7 linked regions of the Homo sapiens genome follow. The protein of the gene in region 7 interacts with the protein of the main gene of each other region in a biochemical or structural test. Each region holds a gene or a part of one and is shown on either strand. Other genes may lie near its edges. The genes, in order: RUSC2, ZBTB7A, SASH1, LCK, NCK2, ABI2 and KHDRBS1.

What was found.
Region 1: the proteins of KHDRBS1 (region 7) and RUSC2 interact in a test that uses a peptide from one of them, tested with the Homo sapiens proteins (one study listed by BioGRID).
Region 2: the proteins of KHDRBS1 (region 7) and ZBTB7A form a complex in vitro, tested with the Homo sapiens proteins (one study listed by BioGRID).
Region 3: the proteins of KHDRBS1 (region 7) and SASH1 interact in a test that uses a peptide from one of them, tested with the Homo sapiens proteins (one study listed by BioGRID).
Region 4: the proteins of KHDRBS1 (region 7) and LCK interact in a test that uses a peptide from one of them, tested with the Homo sapiens proteins (one study listed by BioGRID).
Region 5: the proteins of KHDRBS1 (region 7) and NCK2 interact in a test that uses a peptide from one of them, tested with the Homo sapiens proteins (one study listed by BioGRID).
Region 6: the proteins of KHDRBS1 (region 7) and ABI2 interact in a test that uses a peptide from one of them, tested with the Homo sapiens proteins (one study listed by BioGRID).

The regions. Positions count from the first base shown.
Region 1 is NC_000009.12:35,496,611-35,500,110, forward strand, and holds part of RUSC2 (AP-4 complex accessory subunit RUSC2), read left to right. Parts: intron 1-3,500. UniProt on the Homo sapiens protein: Associates with the adapter-like complex 4 (AP-4) and may therefore play a role in vesicular trafficking of proteins at the trans-Golgi network.
Region 2 is NC_000019.10:4,049,900-4,053,399, forward strand, and holds part of ZBTB7A (zinc finger and BTB domain-containing protein 7A), read right to left. Parts: intron 1-3,500. UniProt on the Homo sapiens protein: Transcription factor that represses the transcription of a wide range of genes involved in cell proliferation and differentiation.
Region 3 is NC_000006.12:148,545,338-148,548,837, reverse strand, and holds part of SASH1 (SAM and SH3 domain-containing protein 1), read right to left. Parts: intron 2,824-3,500; coding exon 2,692-2,823; intron 544-2,691; coding exon 280-543; 3' UTR 1-279. UniProt on the Homo sapiens protein: Is a positive regulator of NF-kappa-B signaling downstream of TLR4 activation. It acts as a scaffold molecule to assemble a molecular complex that includes TRAF6, MAP3K7, CHUK and IKBKB, thereby facilitating NF-kappa-B signaling activation.
Region 4 is NC_000001.11:32,278,765-32,282,264, reverse strand, and holds part of LCK (tyrosine-protein kinase Lck), read right to left. Parts: intron 2,595-3,500; coding exon 2,518-2,594; intron 2,425-2,517; coding exon 2,271-2,424; intron 2,187-2,270; coding exon 2,055-2,186; intron 1-2,054. UniProt on the Homo sapiens protein: Non-receptor tyrosine-protein kinase that plays an essential role in the selection and maturation of developing T-cells in the thymus and in the function of mature T-cells. Plays a key role in T-cell antigen receptor (TCR)-linked signal transduction pathways.
Region 5 is NC_000002.12:105,852,912-105,856,411, reverse strand, and holds part of NCK2 (cytoplasmic protein NCK2), read right to left. Parts: intron 1,365-3,500; 5' UTR 1,349-1,364; coding exon 1,123-1,348; intron 1-1,122. UniProt on the Homo sapiens protein: Adapter protein which associates with tyrosine-phosphorylated growth factor receptors or their cellular substrates. Maintains low levels of EIF2S1 phosphorylation by promoting its dephosphorylation by PP1.
Region 6 is NC_000002.12:203,373,394-203,376,893, reverse strand, and holds part of ABI2 (abl interactor 2), read right to left. Parts: intron 963-3,500; exon of another isoform or gene 879-962; coding exon of another isoform or gene 762-878; intron 1-761. UniProt on the Homo sapiens protein: Regulator of actin cytoskeleton dynamics underlying cell motility and adhesion. Functions as a component of the WAVE complex, which activates actin nucleating machinery Arp2/3 to drive lamellipodia formation.
Region 7 is NC_000001.11:32,034,368-32,037,867, reverse strand, and holds part of KHDRBS1 (KH domain-containing, RNA-binding, signal transduction-associated protein 1), read right to left. Parts: intron 959-3,500; coding exon 825-958; intron 34-824; coding exon 1-33. UniProt on the Homo sapiens protein: Recruited and tyrosine phosphorylated by several receptor systems, for example the T-cell, leptin and insulin receptors. Once phosphorylated, functions as an adapter protein in signal transduction cascades by binding to SH2 and SH3 domain-containing proteins.

The sequences.
Region 1 (3,500 bases), on a different chromosome or scaffold from region 7:
AGAGTTGTTATGAATGTAACATGTAAATTTACTATCACTGATGATTCCTCTGAAGAATTTCATGCAACCACCAGAAGGTGCAAGATCCTAGAGATCTACATATCTTAGGCATTTTCCAGGAGTACTCCTTCAACTGTCGCCCTGCACCTGATTAAGCTGGATATACTATAGTAAAACAATATGTAACAGATCCATGCACTACATGGTGTTATTGTGGAAATGGCCCTGACACATGGCCACTCACTTGACAGCTGTACAAAAGACAGTTATGTTTTTGCCTAGAGGACGCTAAGGTTAAAATTGTCTTTATTGCTCATCTTCCCCACTGATACTGAGCACACCTGGCATAGCTGAGATTAAACTATGAGTATGTATACTTGAATCTGGCATTTAATCCTCACAAAACGAATAGTGACTACACAGTCAAGCATCTTTAATGGGCAAGTACTTGAGCATCCAACCCATGTAAAGTTTGACGATCTGCACCTCTCCTGTCCTTCCCCTTAGAGAGTGAGTACAAGTTTCTAGATGACAGGTTCGGTGTAGACTGTTCAGATGCATCTGGCCAAGTTGTCATGATTTCTCATTGAGGGAAGAGAGATACGACACAGCAGTACATTGTGGATATGTTGAACCCATTAATTGATAGTGCAGCCATCACTGAGAAGCAACATTCAGTCTTTTCTTGCAGATCTTTACTGTACAACCCCTTACTGATATGACCCCATTTGTTGAGCTGTTGTGGATGAAAAGAACTTAATTGGGTTAGTAAACTGGAGAACTGTTTTGTTTTGGTGTTGCAAACCCATTTGGGTAGAATTTGTTCCATGGGTCAACAACTCTGTATCCCCTGGCCATGTATAAGAACATCACAATTATGTATTACCAGCCATATATCCGAATACTATATGCTACTTCTCCTGAAGTCGGCAGCAGATTGTATATCCTAATAAACACATCTGTGGGAAGCTATCTTAGGACAACAAGATCTTCATTATACCCCAAGAAGATCTCCAGACCTAGGGTGATTAAAACATTAACTGCAGACATTAAAGACATTGATATTATTAATGATATGCACACTCATGTCCACTTAACTGACCCTCTTGCATTGGCAGTGGGCCCATTAGTAGATGTAGAGGCTATTAAACATGAGATCATTGGGCATGCAGATTCAGTCTCCTCCTTTCACTCCTTTGGTGCAGGATTTATCACTTCTCTGTCCCTGTGGAACATTGTGAAAGATATGTATCTACATCTGTCACACTTAGACGGAACTTTGTTTCTCCTATCTTTTGTTGTAACTGCCATAGGAAAATTATACATGTACTACAGGACAGTAGAACAACTTTGCCTATATTCTCAGCTAATTAAATAAAAAAGCTGGTTTTTATGTGTTGATTTTGTACCCTGCATCATTGCTGACACTAAAAAATGCTTAGGGTATTTGCAACTAATCATTATTAGTTCTAATGTTTTTGTGGCATCTTTAGGGTGTTCTCCATACAAGATCGTGTAACCTTGGAACAGAGATAATTTTAGTTTTGGTTTTTTTTTTTTCCCAATTTGTATGCCTTTTATTTCTTTTTCTTACCTAATTACTCAGGTAGGAATTCCAGGACTGTTAAATAGAAATGGCAAAAGAATGCCAGGTTTGGTGGCTCATGCCTGTAATCTCAGCACTTTGGGAGGCTGAGGCAGGCAGATCACGTGAGATCAGGAGTTTGAGACCAGCCCGGCCAAAATGGCGAAACCCTGTCTCTATTAAAAATACAAAAATTAGTCAGGCATCTTGGCGCCTGCCTGTAATCCCAGCTACTTGGGTAGCTGAGGCAGGAGAATTGCTTGACCCCGGGAGGCAGAGGTTGCAGTGAGCCAAGATCATGCCACTGAGCTGAGATCATGCCACTGCACTCAAGCCTGGGAGACAGAGCAAGACTCTGTCTCAAAAAAAGAAAGAAAAAGAGGCCAGGCGCGGTGGCTCACGCCTGTGATCCCAGCTCTTTAGGAGGCCGAGGTGGGTGGATCACGAGGTCAGGAGATCAAGACCATCCTGGCCAACATGGTGAAACCCCATGTCTACTAAAATTCAAAAAAAAAATTAGCCGGGTGTGGTGGTGCGTGCCTGTAGTCCCAGCTACTCAGGAGGCTAAGGCAGGGGAATCACTTGAACCCAGGAGGCAGAGGTTGCAGTGAGCCGAGATCGCCTGGCGACAGAGTGAGACTACATCTCAAAAAAAAAAAAACAAAAAAAGAAAAAAGAAATGGCAAAAGTGAACCATTTCTCTTAACACACAATCCTTATGGGATTGTTGATTTGGTATGCAAGTCCTTAATAGACACTGAAAACAACATTATTTTAGCCTGGTATATTATTAATGTTAACAGTAGTGAGGCCAGGCGTGGCGGCTTATGCCTGTAATCCCAGCACTTTGGGAGGCTGAGGCAGGCAGATCACTTGAGGCCAGGAGTTCAAGACCAGCCTGGGCAACATGGTAAAAGCCCAGCTCTACTAAAAATACAAAAATTAGCCAAGCGTGGTGGCATGCACATGTAATCCCAGCTACTTGGGAGGCTGAGGCACAGGAATTGCTTGAACCCAGGAGGCAGAGGCTGTAGTGAGTTGAGATTGTGTCACTGTGCTCCAGCCTGGGCGACAGAGTGAAACTCTCAAAAACAAAAACAAAAAACAAAATAGTAGTGAGTCATCAAGAAAAGTTAAATTATAGCCTACATAATACATTTTAAAAAGTTCTGCCAAAACACTTAAAGTTTTTAAAAAATTAATTTTGATACTTTAGGAAGAAACCCTCTGTTCCTTGGAATTGTTGGTTTAATAAAAGTCTTTTATCTTCAAGAAAATGAGATGGTAAACTCTGAGGTATGTGTTGTATTTTTGGCTTCTTGTGTGAGTTCCTGCAGACAAGGACAATAGACTGATAACTGGGTGGAAAGAAAAATAGGGCCAGCCAACTTCTGGCTAAAGTTTAATTATCTTAGGATCAAAAGTCTATACTTAACTTGTTTATCTTAGGATCCAAAAAAATCTGTATTTAATTTATCTGTTTTTATACTTTGTGCTTCCTTTCTTTTCCTGTATAATTCTTTTTAAAAAAAGAAAATGCACCCTTGTATTTAGTGTACTTAGGGAAAATGGACATTTATTTTTATCCACGCCCAGGCAAAAGAAAAAGAGCAAAGTTCTCCTAAAGGCAGCATAGATAGGATTTAGATGAACCCAAGGTAAAAAGCAAAAACTGCAGGGGAGAAAGTTGGGAACCTACTACTAGTCCCGTTCATCCTCAAGTTGTTTCTCTTCCAAAATGTTCTTTACTTGTTTTTTGAAAGTTGTTTATTTCTGTTTAAAGATACAGTCAAACTTTGTTAAAGTTGGCTGTATTCTATTTATTTAAAGTTATAGCCAAACAGAACAGCTTATTTTTCTAGAGTTCCGGATAGCTAGAGTTTTTCTATAAGACTAATGATTTCCTTTTAAACAT
Region 2 (3,500 bases), on a different chromosome or scaffold from region 7:
CTCCTGTCATCACCACCTGACTCTTCTATTGTTTTTTTTTCTGAGACCGAGTCTCGCTCTATCTTCCAGGCTTGAGCGCAGTGGTGTGGTCTCCGCTCACTGCAACTTCCGTCTCCCGGGTTCAAGCAATTCTTCTGCCTCAGCCTCCCAAGTAGCTGGGATTACAGGCCCTCTGCCACCACACCTGGCTCATTTTTGTATTTTTAGTAGAGACGGGGTTTCACCATGTTGGCCGGGCTGGTCTCGGACTCCTGACCTCAGGTGATCCACCCGCCTCGGCCTCCCCAAACGCTGGGATTACAGGCGTGCGCCACCACACCTGGCTGATTTTTGTATTTTTAATGGAGACAGGGTTTTCACCATGTTGGCTGGGCTGGTCTTGAACTCCTGACCTCAAGTGATCCGCCTGCCTCGGCCTCCCAAAGTGCTGGGATTACAGGCGTGAGCCACCGCGCCCGGCCGGTCTCTCTTGTTTCTGTTGATTTCCTTGTTTCTCCTCTGTCTCCCTGATTGGATTGTGAGCCCCGAGAAGGCAGGGGTTGGGTGTGACTTGAGGGCCCCTCCCTGCCTGTCTCGCCCCATGGGGGCAGCGTGGACCCAGCTTAGCCTGGAGCCTCTAGCCTACAAAGCCGGTCACCATATCAGTGGGGTGCCTGTGGCCTAGGTGGCTCCTGAACCCTTGGAATGTGGCCACTCTGAACTGATGTGCGCTGGAAGTGCAAAAGGTACCCCAGCTTTTGAAGACTTGATATGCAAAAGGTGATGTAAAATGGCTCAATGAGGATCGTGCACATTGACTACACATGGAAATGCATCTACTGGGTTAGGTAAAATGTTTCAAGTCACTTTCACCAACTCTCTTTGACTTTTTTTGAACGGGGCTGTCAGAAAATGTAAAAATATGTAAGTGGCTTGCTGGCCGGGCATGGTGGCTCACACCTGTAACCCCAGCGCTTTGGGAGGCTAAGGCGGGCAGATCACCTGAGGTCAGGAGTTCGAGACCAGCCTGGCCAACGTGGTGAAACCCCGTCTCTACTAAAAATACAAAAATTAGCCGGCATGGTGGTGGGCGCCTATAATCCCAGCTACTTGGGAAGCTGAGGCAGGAGAATCGCTTGAACCTGGGAGGTGGAGGTTGCAGTGAGCTGAGATCGTGCCACTGCACTCCAGCCTGGGCGACAGAGCAAGACTCGTCTCAAAAAAAAAAAAAAAAAAAAAAAAAAAAGTAGGTGTCTTGCCTATTCCCATTGAGTGATGCCAATCTATAGTAATAAAGTGTACTCCTTCCTGGGATCCGGAGGGCAGGAGGGAGCCCTGGGTCTCAAGAGCCCTGGCTAGAACCTGACCTACTCCTTGCTGCTGCCTGTTGTGCCCCACATCTGAGCCACCTCGGGTTTCTTCCTTCTCACACTCAATAGACTGAAGACTTCTTTAGTGTGGGGACTGGCAAACTCCTACTCATCCCTCAAAGCCCTACCTTGAATGCCCCTCTACCTTTCCTAATTCCCAAAGACCTGGCTCCCCTCTGGGTTCCTCCAGCCCTAAGTCCCTCCCTCTGGCACCAGCTACAGAGCTGGTGTCCCTAACTTTAACCCCTCCTTGGCTCTGTTGCCCTGAGGGTCAAGGCCTGGCCCTTGGCAACCAGACCCCTACCTTATCTCTAGCCTTGCTGCCCCACTGAAGCCAACAGAACGTGGTAACTTGCTAACAGAACCCTGGCCTAACCAGGTCTGTTACCAGCCTCCAGGCCTCTGGTTTACTGATCACCTTCTGCAAAGCCCACGGCAAGGTCTCCGGGCTGCCTTGCCCAGATCTGGCACAGGGCCGGGGTCACAGAGGGGATGGCAGCCACTAGGTTTTTCTAGAACCGTGCAGAGACTCCCCAGATGAGCCTGGGAGGCCCAGAGAGAGGAAGGGACTTGCCTGGAGCTGCACAGCAGGCCAGAGGGCCACGCAGAGGCGGGGTGGGGGCGGAGGTATCCCTAGTTTCATCACCCCGAGCCCCAGCCTGGGTAATTATAGCCCCGGCCACCACAGGCCCCACTTACTCAACGCCCTGCTGTGACTCAGAGGGGCCTCGGGCTCCCAGGCTTTTGGAGGGTGGAGGTGCTGGTGTCCTGGGGAGGGGGGACCAGAGCACGGGGTGGGGGAAAAGAGGAAGCAGGTGGGTCTAAATTGGGGTGGGAGGAAGAGGTCTCCACAATTGTCCCTCTCTAAGCCTCAGTTTCTCTGACTGAGGGGATCAGCCCCGGGTCGGGTGGGATAGCCAGCAGTGCCCGAGTCAGAATGAAACCGGGCCTGTGGCCTGCGGCCAGGGAGGCAGGGTGGGGGTCACCACCTTCGCTCAGCCTGGTCCCCTCTGCAGACCCCAGTTCTCTGCACCCCACCAAGCTGCTCTTCCTGAGCTCAGAGACGAACCCACAGTGACCCCTGCCTGGAGGAAGAGGAGCCCCCCAAGACCTCCAGTACCCCAACCTCACCAAGGAGGGACAAACCACCAGCTACACTGCCTGCCTCCCAAAGTGCCCTTTGCCCCCTGCCTGGCACTCCTGGGCGCCGGAGTCCAGGCCGCACCTTCCTCTCCTGGCCTGCTGGGGAGGGGGCCGGGGTGCTGGGGAGGGGTCAGTCCCAGTTCCTGTCCCCACGGGGTGGGGTTGGGAAGCTGGGACAATGGCCTCTTTCTTCAGCCTCGGTGGGCGTGGCTGGGGGAACCCCAGGGCGGGCGGGGGGCAGGGGGTGGTGCTGAGTCACCCAGCCTGGCCAGGTCCCTGCCTGCCAGCCCCCTGCCCCCACCGCTACAGCCCGCCCCGGATCTACGAGGCCCAGCCAGCCACCTCTGGACTCCTGAGACCGAATTGCAAACTGCCCGGGCCTGGCCTTGAACTCCTGCTGTTTAGGGACCAAGTCCTGTGGCTCCCAGGGGGGCACAGTGATCTCTCAAGCTGAGCTGGCCTCAGGGCCTCTGCACTGGCTGTTCCCTCTGCCTGGAACGCCCTTTCCCACAGCTGCTCCTCCCCTCCTTCAGGTTCCGGCAAGGCCTGTCCCCGGCGCCTAGAACAGGCCTGGCACCAGCAGACGCTTCATAAATGTTGGCTGATTGAAGCAAATGACCCAGGCTCACGGGAAACTCAGAAGCCGCTCCACGGCCTGGGCTGTCCCTCCCTAAGCCTGAGGGCCTGTCACCCTCTCCCAAAGCAGAAAAAGAAAAAAATCCAAAAGTGCAGAAGAGAAGAACCAGCCCTCCAGGAAGGAAGAACGACTGTGCCTTCCCGCCCACCTCCCGCAGCTCAACCCTGTCCGGCACGCTTTGCATATGATGTGGCTGTCATCTTATGTCTGGCCTGTGCTGTCACCCACCGGGATGTCCACCCACAAGGGCAGGGCCTGGTCTAGGCTGTTCTTAACAGCCACGTGGGTCAGGGAAGCGTTCGTTGGCTTTGGGCCCAAGAGGTGGGGTGTGTCTGTTTGCGTGTGTGTGCATATATGTGTGTCTGTGGGTG
Region 3 (3,500 bases), on a different chromosome or scaffold from region 7:
CCAGTTGGCATCTTGGTTCTTTTGTCTTCTGAAAATAAAAATAAGTGCTTGTCTTGTCTTTGGGGGTCAAAGAGAACCGCACTAATTTATTTCCTCGAGGGGGCTTTTCTGGAGGAGAGGATCCTCAGTCCTGTGCCAAGGTTTCACGCTGTTTGGCCACACGCCAGGCCTTTCTTCTGGATCTGGTCTGCACGTCCAGAGATGATGGAGGAATTGCATCAGCATCATATGCACAGTGAAAGGGTGGCTCTTGTCCAGAGAGGCCCATTCCGGGCCTGGCTACATGGCCTCAGGGCCTGGCGGCAGTTTGAAGAGTCTGGCTGCAGATAGGAGCTTTCTTATGTGTCTCTCCTCTGTGATGCCGGCCTCCTGAAGGCAAGTGTGAGACAGAGAAGGCACTTGGCTCAGTGTGCTGAAGCCCGCGGTGGAGAGGGTGCCGGCGTACATGGGCAGACCGATGGAAATGAGCCAATCTGACACAGACGAAATGCACCCAGGAGAGACGGGCTTTCGGCAGATTTCCGTGAGTCCACCACTTGGAATCTGGATAAATTAAGAAAGAATATGATAGAAACGCTCCATGTGTCATCGAGGACTACTTCGCGTATGTCTAAAAGGAACAGCACTGAAATACTGCATTGCTAGACTATTATCAGAAAGCGACAATGCAATGAGTGTCAGAGATCAAGACTAGCAGGAAAAATTCTTCTCTAAGATGAAACAAATCTTTAAGGAAGAGTTCCACAAGGTTCTCGAAGGTGTTGGAATGAGGTCAAATCCCATTTATGTGTCCGAGTCTTCAAACTATAAGCATTTACATATTCTGCTATTTTGTTTCACTGTGGATATGCTCTTGACAAAGAGCCCTAAGGTAGTCTGAAGGGACAAATCTGGGTGATCGTGTGAAATGTAGCATTCAGTGGGTAGGGTTTTTATAAAGGAGACTTTCCACTGTATTTTGAATCTATGTTAACAACCAGAAAATTACATGTTTAGTCAATACAAGTTATGAAGAATTTAAAATACAATAATATCAAGGGTTGGCTGGAACAGGGAAGTGGACATTTAACCTTGACTACTGGGTATATAAAGGGCCTGCACCTTTCAGAAAGGTGATTTGCTAACGAGTATGAAAATCTTTGGGATTTTATACAATTTTGATGAAGCAAACCATCTTCCAGGAATATCTACTCAGAAATTAACCTTTAAAGTCTACAAAGATTTATTAACAAGGATGTTCTTCATTACATTATTTAAAATAAAAGGTTAGAAAAATCTAAATGTTTTAACTATGAGACTCACTACTAGAGTACACTGACCTACTAGAATACTTTGAAATACAATAGCCACCCCCCTGCTTATCCATGGTTTTGCTTTCTACAGCCTGAAAATATTAAATGGGAATTTCCAGAAATAAACAATTCATAAGTCTTATATTGCATGCCATTCTGAGTAGTCTGAAGAAATCTCACACCACCCAGCTCTGTCCCACCTGACAATCATCCCTTTGTCTAACAAATCCACGCTGCCTACACCACCAGCCCCGCAGTCACTTAGTAGCCCGTAGTCATCAGATCAACTGTTGCGGTAATGCAGTACTTGCATTCAAGTCACTCTTATTTGACCTTACAATGGCCCCCAAGTGCAAGAGTAACGATGCTGGCCATTCGCACGTGGCAAAGAGAAGCCCTTAAGTGCTTCCTTTAAGTAAAAAGGTGAGAGTTCTTGACTTAATAAGAAAAGAAAAAAAATTGTATGCTGAGGTTCCTAAGACCTACAGTGAAAACGAATCTTCTATCCATGAAATTGTGAAGGAAAAAGAAATTTGTGTATAATATATACAGGGTTTGGTACTCAGCAAGCTTTCAAGAGATCCACTTGGAGGTCTTGGACCATAATCCCTCATGGATAGGGGGAGACTACTGTATTGATGATATCAATTTTTTTTTTTTTAAGTAACAGGGAAACAGATTCATGATCTGATAATAGCCAACAATCAGGTTTCGGTACTATACATTTACGCATACATTACGCATGTGCAGAGAAATGACTAGACAGAGTTTTAATGGACAAGTAAAAATTGTGTGTATTTATGGTGTAAAACGTGGTGTGTTGATAAATGTACACATTGTGGAATGGCTAAATCAAGCTATTTGACATATGCATTACCTCATATACTATATTTTGTGGTGAGAACACTTAAGATCTGCTGTCCTAGCAATTTTCAAGTATACATTGTTATTAACTGTAGTCACCATGTTGAACAATAGATCTTTGGAAGTTATGCTTCTAACTGAAACTGTGTCATTCAGACGGATTTTATTTTATTTCTTAAGAGATGGGGTCTCACTATGTTGCCCAGGCCGGCATCAAAATTCTGGGCTCAAGCAATCCTCCTGCTTCTGCCTCCCAAGTAACTAGGATTACAGGTGTGCACTATCACGCCCAGCACTAGACGGATCTTTAAAAAGTTTTTCACAGTGTTGGGATTACGGATAATTTTCATTTTTTTTTTCTTTCTGAAAGTGTATTTTTAAACATTTCTAGGCTGACCACATATTACTTTCTCCCCAGCTGTCTCCTTTCCATAGCTACGCAAGCCCTTGCCTACTTGGCAGTTGTTAGTATGGTCATCACTAAGCGTGATCACTAAATGTGCCTCAGGAAGCTGGAGAACTGTGGGCTGCTCACCGCCATGCGGTGCTGCTTCCGAAGCTGCTTCACCCGGATCTGGTCCATGTTGGCGGCGACGTCCCGCTCGGGCTGATCCAAGTCCTCTGCGTATCTCTGCACCAGGGCTTCAGGAATCCCACAGCGGCCATGCTGCCAGGGAGAACAGGAATATGACATCAAGAGTCATAAGGATTTTGTTTTTCTTTCCCTAAGATACACCACATATAACGTAGGGTCTCACTGTCACTTAGACTGGAGTGCAGTGGTGTGATCATGGCTCACTGCAGCCTCAAACTCCTGGGCTCAAGCGATCTTCTCGCCTTGGCCTCCCAAAGTGTTGGGATTCCAGGCGTAAGCCACCACACCCAACCCAAAAGTTTGAATTTGAAATGAATATATTTTCTTTATTGGTCAGGATGAATGCTTTAGAGGGAATACTTTTACATCTTTATCTTAAAGTACTGATGAGCTCTAGGAAAATGTTCTGAAGCATAGTTAAGGCAGAACACAATTATTCCACATTTTTCAGGACAATGCCTTCGCCTCAATCAGATCATTTTGCAAAATACAACTCCTCTAATGTTACTGAAGAGAGTCTTCTAAACTGCAGGAGAGAAGGGCTAACTTCTGCTTTACAGATATTCAACTGTTTGCACTTTATCTGCTACAAGTGATACCACCAGCTCACTAGGCCAGCATTTACTGTATGGTCTTTCTCACTACCTTTCATTTAAAGACATTCACTCAGGAAATATCAAGGAGGGTCAGAGAGGTGGAGGAGGATCTGATTCTAAGGCATTCATTGTCATGAGAATTTTATAATAAAG
Region 4 (3,500 bases), 240 kb from region 7:
AGATACATTCCCTATGGGTTTGCCTCTGTGGGAACCGGGAAGGAGCAGTGAGGACCCCTGGCAGGATAACTGGAGAATATTTCTGTATTTCCAGCTCCAGCACTACCCCTGGACGCTGGTTTGGGGCAAGCCCAGGGCAGGGAAGCCCCTCAGCTTTTCACCTGTTTCCAAGGTGGTTGTTTTTGTTTTTGTTTTGAAACAGAGTCTCACTTTGTCACCCAGGCTGGAGTGCGGTGGCATGATCTCAGCTCACTGCAACCTCTGCCTCCTGGGTTCAAGCAATTCTCCTGCCTCAGCCTCCTGAGTATCTAGGGTTACAGGCGCGTGCCACCATGCCCAGATAATTTTTATATATATTTTTTTTAGTAGAGACGGGGTTTCACCATGTTGGTCAGGCTGGTCTCGAACACCTGACCTTGTGATCCACCCGCCTCGGCCTCCCAAAGTGCTGGTATTACAGGTGTGAGCCACTGCATCCGGCCTTCCAAGGTGTCTTTACCTTCCTTGGAGCAAAGGTCTGTTCACCTTGCTCTGGGGATATGGGAAGCTTCTACAAATCTAGCCACTGTGCCGCATGACCCCCCTACTCCTGTCTTTATGCTCCATTTCCTTTCCCCAGAGTTTCTTAGCAAGTTCCTTTCAAAAATTCCATCCCTGTCTTGGCTGAATTCAGGGGTAAAGGGCTTTGTCCAGGAGATGGTGGGAGGAGTCAGTGTATACTGACAACCTACTATGAGTCAGGCTCTTTCACAAATGGTCTCTCATTTTTTCTTTTTTCTTTTTCTTTTTCTTTTTTTTTTTTTTTGAGACAAATTCTCTCTCTGTTGCTCAGGCTGGAGTGCAATAGAACAATCATGGCTCACTGCACCCTCAACCTCCTGGGCTCAAATGATCCTCCCACCTCAGCCTCCCAAATAGCTGAAACTACGGGTGTGTGCCACCATGCCCAGCTAATTTTTAAATGTTTTTTTTGTTTGTTTGTTTTTTTTTTTTTGTAGAGATGGAGTCTCTCTTTTTCTTGTTTTGAGACAGGGTCTTGGTCTATTGCCCTAGGCTGGAGTGTTATGGCATGGTCTTGGCTCACTGCAACCTCTGCCTCCCTGGCTCAGGTGATCCTCCCACCTCAGCCTTCTGAGTAGCTGGGACTAGAGGCACATGCCACCAAACCTGGCTAACTTTTGTTTTTGTAGAGATGGGGTTTCGACCAGTTTCCCAGGCTGGTCTCGAACTCCTGGGCTCAAGCAGTCCTCCCACCTTGGTCTCCCAAAGTTCTGAGATTATAGGCATAAGCCACTGTACCTGGCCTAGTCTCTTATTTTTAGTATCAGGAAACTGAGGCTTAGAGAAGTGAAGTGACTAGCTTCACTAGTTACAGTAATGATCTGAACAAAGCCAAACAGAAAGTTAGCAACAGTGGCAGATCTGCTGATAAAAGGTAGGCCTCTTGTTCCTGAGCTAGATCTTCTTCTACCATACCAGGCTGCCTGGGCCAGAACTAAAGAAAAGAGCTGGGGCCGGGTGTGGTGGCTCACGCCTGTAATCCCAACACTGGGAGGCCGAGGCAGGCCAATCACGAGGTCAGGAGATTGAGGCCATCCTGGCTAACATGGTGAAACCCTGTCTCTACTAAAAATACAAAAAATTAGCTGCGCATGGTGGCACGTACCTGTAATCCTAGCTATTTGGGAGGCTGAGGCAGGAGAATCACTTGAACCCAGGAGGCAGAGGTTGCAGTGATCCAAGATGGCGCCACTGCACCCCAGCCTGGGAGACAGAGCAAGACTCCGTCTCAAAAAAAAAAAAAAAAAAAAAAAAAAAAAAGAAAAAGAAAAAAAGAGAAAAAGAAAAGAGCTGGGGTTATTAAAGAGAGATACGGAGATGGAAGCCAGCCCTGGGAGATGTGGCATCTGCCTGGGGACGTTGGACTCATACCCCTGAGAAGATAGAGGAGATGCAGCTACAAAGTTTCAGATTCTGAGACTGGAAAGAATTGAATGGGAAGACATGGACTTGCCCTTCCCATCACCCTTTCAGTTCCTGCCCTTGGCTCTAACCTGGGTAAGGGATGCGGCCGTGGGTGACAATTTCCGTCAGCAGGATCCCAAAAGACCACACATCTGACTTGATGGTGAATGTCCCGTAGTTAATGGCTTCTGGCGCTGTCCACTTAATGGGAAACTTGGCCCCTAAGGAGGAGGCAGAGTGAGGTCACCTGGGTCTGCTTGGCCAGACCCTGCAGGGCCCAGACCACCCTTAAATCTCACACGTACCCTCCCTGGCTGTGTACTCGTTGTCCTCAATGAGGCGTGCTAGGCCAAAGTCTGCAATCTTGCAGCTCAGGGTGTCAGACACCAGAATGTTGGCAGCCCGAAGGTCACGATGAATATAATTCCGCTCTTCAATGAATGCCATGCCTTCTGCAATCTGCAGGCCAAACACAGATCAGCGGTCCTGAGCCAGATGTCTTCACGTCACTGGTCTGTTCCCTTGCCCAGCCCCCCTCCCCAGTCTCCTTACTTGGGCTGCCATGTCCAGGAGTTTGTTGATGGTCAACTTGATGCCTGAAGGGGTCTTGAGAAAATCCACTAGACTCCCTGTGGGCAGAAGCAAGAGTTGCTGGCCCAAGTTGCCCCAGGGGGAGGCCCCCAGACCTTTCTCCTCCAACTGGGAGTCTAGAAGTGTGTCTGACATGTGAAAAGGAAGATTGAAGAGTGAGAATGGAGGAGTGTGTGTTCAGGGTAAGGATGCCCAGGATATGTAAAGGTTTTTTTGCAGAGGGGCTAGGGTAGAGCATGCTGGGAGGGATCTGTAGGTTTTTCATCACCAATAAGGTAGAACCTAGAATCCTCAACTAGTATCCTAAGCTTGGCATGGTCCACACTGGTAGCTTCTTCTCTTTCCCCCACTCTGCCTTTGACTTCAAACAGTTTAGCAATTTTGAGATCCTGCACTCAGACCACTAGGCTCTCACCCCAAAGCCTCTTTGTTTCATCTCTGCCTGCTAAAAAAAATTCTACTTTTCTTTCGTGGCCCTGCTAGACTGCCCCACTAGGAAGCCTCTCTAGATCCTACCAGGCATAATAAACTGGATCATCATCTACACTCCCATGGGCATGCTGGAACTTTCCCATGGCACAAACTCTGGTTTCCCCAGTAGCTGTAACTAAAATCAGGTTTCCCTGACAACAGGAACCTTGTTTCATCCATCCATGTTCCTGGTGCCCAGCCGAGAGTAAGAAACAATAACTATGTGCTGAATATATTGGATGGAATAAGAAAGAGGGGGTCTGGGGGTCTGAGGGACCACCTCTCTAATAGTGGAGGGCAGCTGGACATGGATGGGAGTTGCTAGGATGCAGTGAGTGACCAATGGCCCTTCCCAAGAGATTAAAACCCTGTAAAAGGATGACAGCAACCTGAGTGTCCCCACTTTGAGTGCTGAACTAGTTACCAAAGACAAAGACCTCACCTACACACAGCAAATACATAGACATAGATAT
Region 5 (3,500 bases), on a different chromosome or scaffold from region 7:
TCATTTCACTAGCAAACCCTTAAGTGATAACCTGCAGTCTTGGATACAGACAACATTATACTCATAAGAAGGTAACAACGTTTTAAATGTCAGCTCAGATGAGTCATTCTTCAAAAAAGTCCTCGCAATTATTTTCTCAGGTAATCTGAGGCAGTAAATACTGTAAGTCAGTTCCGTGTGCATGTAAAGGCAAGACTGGATACTGTTAACTTTGTGTAACTCCAGGAGGGCACTGCCCATAACCTGACAACACCTGGGAAAACAAGAGGCACATGGGGAGCCGGGCACGGTGGCTCACGCCTGTAATCCCAGCACTTTGGGAGGCCAAGGTGGGCGGATCACAAGGTCAAGAGATCGAGATCATCCTGGCTAACACAGTGAAACCCCATCTCTACTAAAAATACAAAAAATTAGCCGGATGTGGTGGTGGGTGCCTGTAGTCCCAGCTACTCGGGAGGCTGAGGCAGGAGAATGGTGTGAACCCAGGAGGTGGAGCTTGCAGTGAGGCAAGATCGTGCCACTGCACTCCAGCCTGGGCAAGAGTGTGAGACTCCGTCTCAAAAAAAAAAAAAAAAAAAAGAGGCACATGGGGACAACAGTATGGCTGAACTAGGCCCCCACCATGGAGCGGCCTCTGATGTCACAAAGCTGCCCTCTTAGCTAACGGCACCCAGGACTGTGGTGTGATGTAGCATCCATTTCAGAGAGGGAAAAAGTGCTTTGGCTGTCCCCTGCTCTAGGCACGTAGGCCAAATGGACAGGATTGTATAAGAGAGAAAGAACTTCATGTCACGACACTGGCAGAGCTGGGTAGACTTAGAGGTGAGAATTCCAAGTCAGGCTCCTCTAACGTTTTGATACAAGGAGATACCTGTGCAGGGGTCCCAAGCACACAAAGTGTCTCCATACACAGGACCCCAAACTCCAGAATCTCCAGGAAATGAAAAACATCCTCTTTCTCCATCTTCATCTCTTAATTCTTAGATTATTAAAAAAGACAACTAGGAAGATATTAACTTTTAAAACAGACTTTTTTTTTTTTGAAACAGCAAACTAACTAGAAAGACGAACAGTGTCCCTTGAAATGCACAAGGCTTCCTCTCTCGAGGGTGAAACACTCACCTAGTGTGTCCTTCAGGTTCTTCACGAGGGAGCCCTTCTTCAGGCTGTTCTTCCGCTCCACGTAGTTGGACGGTACATAGCCCGTCCTGTTGGCCGCGTTCCTCACCCGCCACCACGTCTTGGAGTCGTCCAGCAACCACAGCCGCTCGTTCTTCTTGATGTCCAGCTCCTGGTCCTGCTGGGCGGTGTAGTCCCACTTGGCTATCACAATAACTTCTTCTGTCATCTTTCATGGAGTCCTTCTGCCAGCAAAACATTTGGAGATGCTCATTAGAGAACTACCCGGACACTTCATCCTTTGCACCAACTTGAAAAATTAGGCACTGACAGCTTTTATTACAACTCTGCAACCAGTTTTCTCCTGGGTCTTGAAATGCTCAACTTTAAAATGACCTTCTTTCAACAAGCTTTAGTATTTGGTTTAGAAACAGCAACCTTATAAAACAAATCTTATGTTACTGTTTGCTGTACATGGGGAAATCTGACCCTCTAACAAAAACAAACTTGAAAAAAATTCTAAATAACATTATAATTAAATGAGTCCATTTCATTAAGTAACACTGCCTCCTGATAACTGTTAGGTTGACACTCATTTTCTCAGGATATGCTGTGTCTTATAAACATATTTAATAAGTCAACATAACCAAACTACTCCTATAAATTAAAATTAACATTGTACTAATAACAAGGTGGTATCCTGGATTGGATCATGAAACAGAAAAAGAAAATTAATGGAAATACTGGTGAAATCAAAATAAAGTCTAAGAATAATAATAACAATAAATAATTGTCAATCTCTTAGTTTGGACAACACACCAGTAAGATGTTACTGCATTCACATAAGATGTTAACACAATGAGAAACCAGGTAAAGGGTATAAGGGAAAGTTCTGTACTATACTGGGAACTTTTTTATAAATATAAAATTATTCCCCAAAACTTTCATTCACACAAAAACCTGTGCAGAGACGTCTGTAGCAGCTTTATTCATAATTGCTCAAATTTGGAAGCAAGCAAAATGTCCTTTAGTAGGACACAGTTTATAGATACATAAACTGTGGTATATCCAGACAATGAAATATTATTCAGTACCAAAAAGAAATGAGCTATCAAGCCATGAAAAGACATAGCGGAACCTTAAACGCATATTGCTAGGTGAAAGAAGCCAATCTGAAAAGGCTACACACTGTGTGATTCTGACAGTTTATCCTTAACCAAACTTCAGCCAAATTCCTTTGAATCTTCTTCCCTTTAAGGCCTCAACTTTTGCACTTCCGTGTCCATCTCTGCATTGCCCAATTTTTGCAAGACTCTCCTGCTAAGGTGCTCTAGCTGGAATCCTCCACTCTCAACATCTGATCAGGTTCCTCATCCTCTACCATCCCCCAGGTGACAGCTGATCACCCTGTCCTGCCTTCAGAAGAATCCTGTTCGGTCAGTTTAGCCAGAATCCCCACGCTCCACCCCTGATGTTTCCTCTTAGTAATTTTCCACCCACCAACTCCCTTATTTTGCTCCTTGCCTATAAATGCCCACTCTTCCTTGTTGTCTTAATATTAGGAGTCAAACCCAATCTCTTTCTTGACTGCAAAACCCTACTGTAGTAGTCCCTCTGAATAAAATCTGCCTTACTGTTCTTCAACAAATGTCATGAATAAGTTTTTTCTTTAAAACGGTATGACATACTGGAAAAGACAAATCTATGGAGACAGTAAGAAAATAAGTGCTTGCCTGGGGCAAGAGGGAAGGGAGGGATGCAAGGGTGAAGCACAGGATTTTTAAGGCTGTGAAACTACTCTGCTCAATACTATAATGGCGGACACCTGTCATTATACATTTGTTAAAATCTATAAAATGTGCAACATCAAAAGTGAACATAACATTTTTCCAAAATGAAAAGTTTATCAAAACAACAATAAATAGATGCGTGTATTATATATCCAGTAAAGTCAATTTTGGAAGTAATAAATAGCAAAAGTGTGGCTGAATAAATAAAATAAATAATCAACTATTTTAGCAACTCTCTACTTCTTAGGTAGAAGATGAACCAATATTCTTTAAGCAGAAAAATTCAATATTCAGTCCTTAAACTAACTAGACATTTCTCCAAACTAGGGAGAAATGAATGATGAAAACACTCAGGACTAAAATCCCCTTCCTCCCTGACAGAGAAGTTCTCATTATTGTATAGGGATGACTTTAGGATTACAGGGGACCTATGCACATTGACTCCATGGAAGCATAAATACCATTTTTAAATAACATATTTTCTACTAGATGCTAAAAAAATTTTTTTATAAATAATACACGTTTCTTTCATGAATTAACTTCCAAATTTAAAGATAACAAACCTTTTGGGAAGGAGGAAAGCCTCTGCAT
Region 6 (3,500 bases), on a different chromosome or scaffold from region 7:
AATATAAATTAGAAATCTGTTCATTTGATCTTATAGAGATGTGACTTGGTCTAGGGATTGGGGACATTTACATATTACCCACATGTTCTCTTCATATACACACAAACACACACTTAGCCCAAACCCATAGACCATAACAGTAAAAAAAAAAAAAAAAAAAGGGAAGACCAATACAGTAAATAGAAAGATAACAATAAGCCTAAAATAAAGGGTCATTGTTATAATAGAGCAAAAAAATTGGCACTAAGCCTCCAGGGAGAGAAGGCAAAATAGAAACATAATGAGTTACGAGGAAATATATCAATTCATCAGGAAAGTGAAATGTTTCCCAGGATTAAATTCTTTAAAAATATATTTGTTGTTGCTTTTTATATCAAATCTCAGTAAAAACTGAAGGCATGTTTTTTAAACAGCATAAGTATACAGAAAGTCAAAATAATTTAGTTTGGCTATATGATGTTTTTAATTGTCTACTTCAAAGAATGCCTACATCTTAGAAACACTAGGGGCAGGGTAACTCAACAGTGGCACTATTGACATTTTGGGCTTGATAATTCTTTGTTGTGGGCAGGGGTGAAGGCTGCTGTCTTGAGGATTGCAGAATATAGAAAAGCATCCAGGTAGATAACTGTAGCACTCCCCCACCATGAGATGTGACAACCAAAAATGTCTAACATTGCCAAATGTCCCCTTGGGGGCAAAACTTCCCTGGTTGAGAACCAAAGATCTATAGAGGAAGGACTAATTAGCTGGTCCCTTACCTCATTCAATCTCAAACTGCAATTGTTTCCAAATTTGGTCACAAAAGTCGACTCAAGATCAACGCCTCTAATTTGCCTAAGTATAGATATTTTAAGTAAATAACTTTTAAAAAACATCTATAATAATAAAGGTAATCTAACAACGGTATAATTTGCATTCTTGCCATCATACTACCACACGGGGTTGAACTGCAGTATTGCCTGTGGGCAGAAGAAAACATGCCTTTAGAAAATGGCTACGGTTCTATTTGGAGTTTGAATAATTTGACAGAGAGCACTAAATCTATTTCATAAACAAGCAGAAGATTCTCAGGTTGGTCCAGAAGATTCTAAGGTTTTCAGCAATCATCTGCTTCAATTTTTTTATAGCTTTCACTTGTAGAAAATAAGCATATTCAAATTAGATAGAATAATAAACACTCCCTCCTCACATCTATCATGCAGCTTTAACATTCATAAATTCGTAGACAATTGTCAGTTGTAAAAGAAATTTAGGAAAGCTCCTGTAACATATTCTTAAATAAAATATGGCTACTATATTTTTCCTACATCAAATTCACAGTATCAGTAATTATGGCATTTGCCCTCATGATATTCTTTGACATTACAATGTTAAATTTCATTAAGTTAAATTTTGGAAGTACAAGTTCAACACTGATATTTAGGATGAATTTTAAAAGTAAGAAAAGTATTTCAAATTTATTCTGGGTTTTTTAAGTTACTAGTTATATGACAATAAACCTACTTATTTAGAAGAGACCTCAATAACAGCACTCACCTGTGGCAAGTAAAAAATGTGTTCTGCTAGCAATCAAAGATGACCAAAACTAATTCAAATACACAATTAATATAATTATTGTTTGCTACAGATCCCATTAACCAAAAAACACACCAAGATATATCACTGCAATTGTATAGGACTTAATAAACAACTATTCTCCCACAGTTCCTTATTAATTAGCTTCCCCATCCTTCTCACTGATATTGCCAAGCTGATCTTGCATGCTGCAGGCTTTCCCCATGACACTTCAGCCACACAGTGCCAAACCCAGGTTCCTTAAGGATACCTCTTATGGCCTTGAGATAATCATACTGACTCCCAGCTCCTTTGCAAGCCTGAGCCCCACTCCCACATCTCCCTCATGAACCCAAGCACATGCTCAGGCCACAGCAGATGACAGGAAGGTACTGTATAAAATATTTTGTTTTAGGATTATCCATGCATTGTCATTTCCCATTACCACAGATAATTGAAAGTTGACTGTACTGGATAGCACTACCTCAGTTAGCTGCCCATCAGTGTGGGAAAACATCTGCAATCAAACAGTTACAGTGGATTAACCCAACTAAATTGGGTGTTTTTAAATATGTCTCAATTTTTTTTATTAGTAAGCTAATGTTTCAAATAAACATTTAAATTACAATTATGCTTCAAATTATGTATCATTCATAAAACAAATTAGTTACTAACAGAGTAATTTTCAGTTTTTTTATATAAAGTGATATAAAAACTACATAGGAAATTAATTGGGAAGTATAAAAAGTCTACTTTCTATGCATAATTACGTATTGATAACCTTCAGTGTATCTCCTTAATTAAAATTGGAAATTCCTTTTTTTTTTTTTTTTTTTTTGAGACAGAGTCTCGCTTTGCCACCCAGGCTGGAATGCAGTGGCACGATCTCAGCTCACTGCAACCTCCGCTCCCAGGTTCAAGCAATTCTCCTACCTCAGCCTCCAGAGTAGCTGGGATTACAGGTGCCCACTACCACACCCAGCTAATTTTTGTATTTTTAGTAGCGACAGGGTTTCACTATGTTGGCCAGGCTGGTCTCAAACTCCTGACCTCAGGTGATCCGGCCACCCTTAGCCTCTCAAAGTGCTGGGATTACAGGCGTGAGCCACGGAGCCTGGCCAAAATTAGAAATTCTTAAGCAAGGCTATCTATATAAAGTTTTTGTGTTTTGGGTTGTTGAGACAGTGTCTCACTCTGTTGCCCATGCTTGAATCCAGTGGCATGAACATGGCTCACTGCAGCCTCGACCACCTGGGCTCAAGTGATACTCCCGCCTCAGCCTCCTGAGTAGCTGGGACTACAAGTGTGCACCACCACACCTGGCTAATTTTTGCATTTTTTGGAGAGATGGAATTTTGCCATGTTGGCTAGGCTGGTCTCAAACTCCTGACCTCAAGGGATCCGCCTGCCTCAGCCTCCCAAAGTGCTGGGACTACAGGCATGAGCCACCACACCCAGCCTAAAGTTTTTAGACAGTAAAAGCTACCCTACTTGTTGAGTTCTTAAGGCCACTGCCTTTCAATACCTAGCTCTTGAGAAGAATTACTTCCAATTTTATATTATTTTATGATAATTATTTTCCAGCTCCTTTAATTGTTACCTGCTAACTAATTTAACACCTGGCCCAGTAAGTCCTACTCAGCCCTTGGGAAGGTGGGAAGAGCACTACTTTCTTAAGTTCTTTATGTTGCCTTTTGACCTTGCTTAATCTTTTTTTCTAAGCCATGACAAACTTGAACATGGATAAGTACTGACTAATTTTACTAGCAAAGAAAAAAGATGGGCCTCGCTTAGAAAAATTTTAGTTTAGTCTCCCTCTCCCTCTCCCGCTCCCTCTCCCTCTCCCTCTCCCCACGGCCCATGGTCTCCCTCTCCCTCTCTTTCCACGGTCTCCCTCTGATGCCGAGCAGAAGCTGGACTGTACTGCTGCCATCTTGGCTCAC
Region 7 (3,500 bases):
AAAGCCCCCCGAGGTGGTCCAACACCACGGCCCCTACAAAATGAAAGTTTATCTTAAATGGAGCTTTTTATAAACAGGCCACTTTTATGTTCTGATTTGTTTACAAATTCTGGAATTAGGCAGATTTTATGAAGCCTTAACTAGGCTATTATTAAAGCACAGAGGAATGTACAGGGTAAAGGACCCACACTGCAAGATCCCCCAGGTCCTATAGAGGACCAATTCATCACTGCACTGCCTTGGGTAGGTCTGGAGAGTCTGAATACTCTATAAAGGTCAGTCACAAAAGGTAGAATTTTAAAGTCAGACCATTAACAAATGCTAAGACTGTCCAAAATTAGAAGACCAAAAGTTTCAGCTAGACTGCAGCACTTGGCTATGGTCAAAGTGCCCAAGATCTAGAACTCTATTTTTTTTTTTTTTTGAAATGGAGTCTTGCTCTATCTCCCAGGCTGAAGTGCAGTGGCATGATCTCGGCTCACTGCAACTTCCGTCTCCTGGGTTCAAGCAATTCTCTTGCCCCAGCCTCCTGAGTAGTGTGGTGTATGCCACCACACCTGGATAATTTTTGTATTTTTAGTAGAGACAGGGTTTCACCATGTTGGCCAGGCTGGTCTCAAACTCCAAATGTCAGTTGATCCGCCTGCCTTAGCCTCCTAAAGTGCTGGGATTACAGGTGTGAGAGTATGGTTGTAGAATTCTGTTCTTTATGCAACATACAAATCCTGAGACCCTTCCTAAGCTAGACATAAGAGCACCACTAAAAGAGATGACACTAGTAGTCAAATTCACATCCTATTTCTGGGTGTCTCCATTATTTTTACCTGGGAACAGGTGGTGGAGGAGGTGCAGCTCCCCGGCCTCTCACTGGCACCCCACGTCCACGAGAGGGTTCAGGTACTCCATTCAAGTAGGACAGCTCTAGAAATTGCTCCTGACAGATATCATCCATCATATCCTGGGAACGAAAGATACAAGGAGTATTGTGTGGTATCTACACTTTCTACTGAGAAATCATCTGGTCCACGGGAGACTTGAATTCTAAGAAGAGCTCTTGAGAGCCCAGATGAGGTCTCAGGTCATTCCTTCTCTGAAGTCAAATGGCACCCTATCTGTCACCTCTTTGAGAAAAGTCTTGATGGTAGACCCCTCATTATTCATAATGTGGTCTCTGCCTAGCTCTCCGGATCACTTCCATTCTCTCTCTATATATAACCTACTCACAAGCCAGACTGAACAACTTGTAGTTCAGAGCCTGGCATACTCTTACATATCCATTCTTTGCAAATAGTTTCCTTTTCCTGGAATAATAAAAGCCACTACCATTAATGGAGCTGTATGCACTTGGCTCTATATAATAAGCTTTATATAGATTTTTCAGTTTAATCTTCAAAATGAGGGCCGGGTGCAGTGGCTCACGCCTGTAATCCCAGCACTTTGGGAGGCCGAGGCGGGCAGATCACGAGGTCAGGAGATCGAGACCACCCTGGCTAACACGGTGAAACGCTATCTCTACTAAAAATACAAAAAAATTAGCCGGGCGCGGCAGGCACCTGTAGTCCCAGCTACTCGGAAGGCTGAGGCAGGAGAATGGCGAGAACCCGGGAGGCGGAGCTTGCAGTGAGCCAAGATAGCGCCACTGCAGTCCGGCCTGGGCGAAAGAGAGAGACTCCATCTCAAAAAAAAAAAAAAAAAAAAAAAAAATCTTCAAAATGACCCTGAAATAAGTAGGCAGATCTCCACATTTTACAGTTAAGAAAACAGACTCAAGGAGTATACATCAACCAGCTTAAGAACACAGAGCTAATAAATGGCAGACTCTAGATGTGAATTCAGAATTACCTGTCTCAAAATCTAGGTGTTGGATCAACAGGCTTTTTTGTCCTTATACTGTCTTTTTTGTCCACCTGAGGGATTCTTAATTCATCCTTACAAGACTTGCCTAAATAAGTGTCTCTTGAAAAACTTTCTCTTGATGCCACCCCTACAACTCCTCTTTTCTCAAAGTACCACATAATTCCCTATACCCAAGCACTTACCACATAATTTTAGAATTGTCTGTCACTAAACTGTAAGCTCTTTAGGAGCCATTTTTGTAACTTTACACCCAAGCATAGTATCAGACATCTGACAGATACTTAAGAAATGTTTGGGACGAACAAGAAACCTGAAGCTCAGAAAAGTGAAATGATAACCTGTTCAGGAAGACACAGATAGACAGACATACATAGTCCAGTGCTCTTCCTACGGCACTGTGAAGCATTGCTGGTATAGTTAATTGTTCTAAGTGGAAAATGGAGGGCTCTGGTCACAGATGCAAAAATAGCCTCACTTTTCTTTCCTCCACAAGAGGGAAAAATCAAATGCCACTGGCAAATCTTTTCACACTTCCTATTGAGAGCCATTCAGTCTTAATACTTCATGCATTTTTATATATCCCAGGCGTATACAGCTTCAATAGATGATGCTAGTCTTTGATGCCCCCCTCAACTCTCTAGCTCCTCCTACCTTACACATTACCGCTGCTTGAGACTCACACCTTGGAGAATCAAGTAACCAATGCCAGACCATTGCTCAGACTCCTCCAACTGCCACATCAACACTGAGGAAACCCACATCTCCCCGGCAAGCATCTTTTTCAAAAGATTCACTTACAAGCAAGCCTCATAAACCTAACCCTTCTGAGGAATATGAGGGAGACTAACAATGAAGAGAGGAGATGGGCATTCCCTCTGCAGTCCTTTGGAAATTGAATGGCTTGGGTGATCAATAGAACACCCCAAAAAGAGTAAAAAGAATTTCCTTAAGATTATTAACCAGCTGTGTTTTTCTCTAGGATATGTTAAATGGTCTGTTTCATGTTGAACATTCTTTTTTTTTTTTTTTTGAGACAGAGCCTCACTCTGTCACCCAGGCCAGAGTGCAGTGGCGCAATCTCGGCTCACTGCAAGCTCCGCCTCCCGGGTTCATACCATTCTCCTGCCCCAGCCTCCCGATTAGCTGGGACTACAGGCGCCTGCCACCACGCCCAGCTAATTTTTTTTTTGAATTTTTAGTAGAGACGGGGTTTCACCATGTTAGCCAGGATGGCCTTGATCTCCTGACCTCGTGATCCACCCGCCTCGGCCTTCCAAAATGCTGGGATTACAGGTGTGAGCCACCGCGCCCTGCCTCATGTTGAACATTCTAATGAAGATGAGGTACTTGAAAGCAAAGCAGCTGCTAAGACATTTGAGACTGTTGGAATCCTTGGAGTTCAGCATTATGGGTACACAATGCCTAAAAACTTATTTATTTATTTTTTTTGGAGATGGAGTTTCACTCTTGTTGCCCAGGCTGGAGTCCAATGGTGCAATCTCAGCTTACCGCAACCTCTGCCTCCTGGGTTCAAGTGATTCTCCCGCCTCAGCCTCCCTAGTAGCTGGGATTACAGGCATGTGCCACCACGCCCGGCTAATTTTGTATTTTTAATAGACAGGGTTTCTCCATGTTGGTCAGGC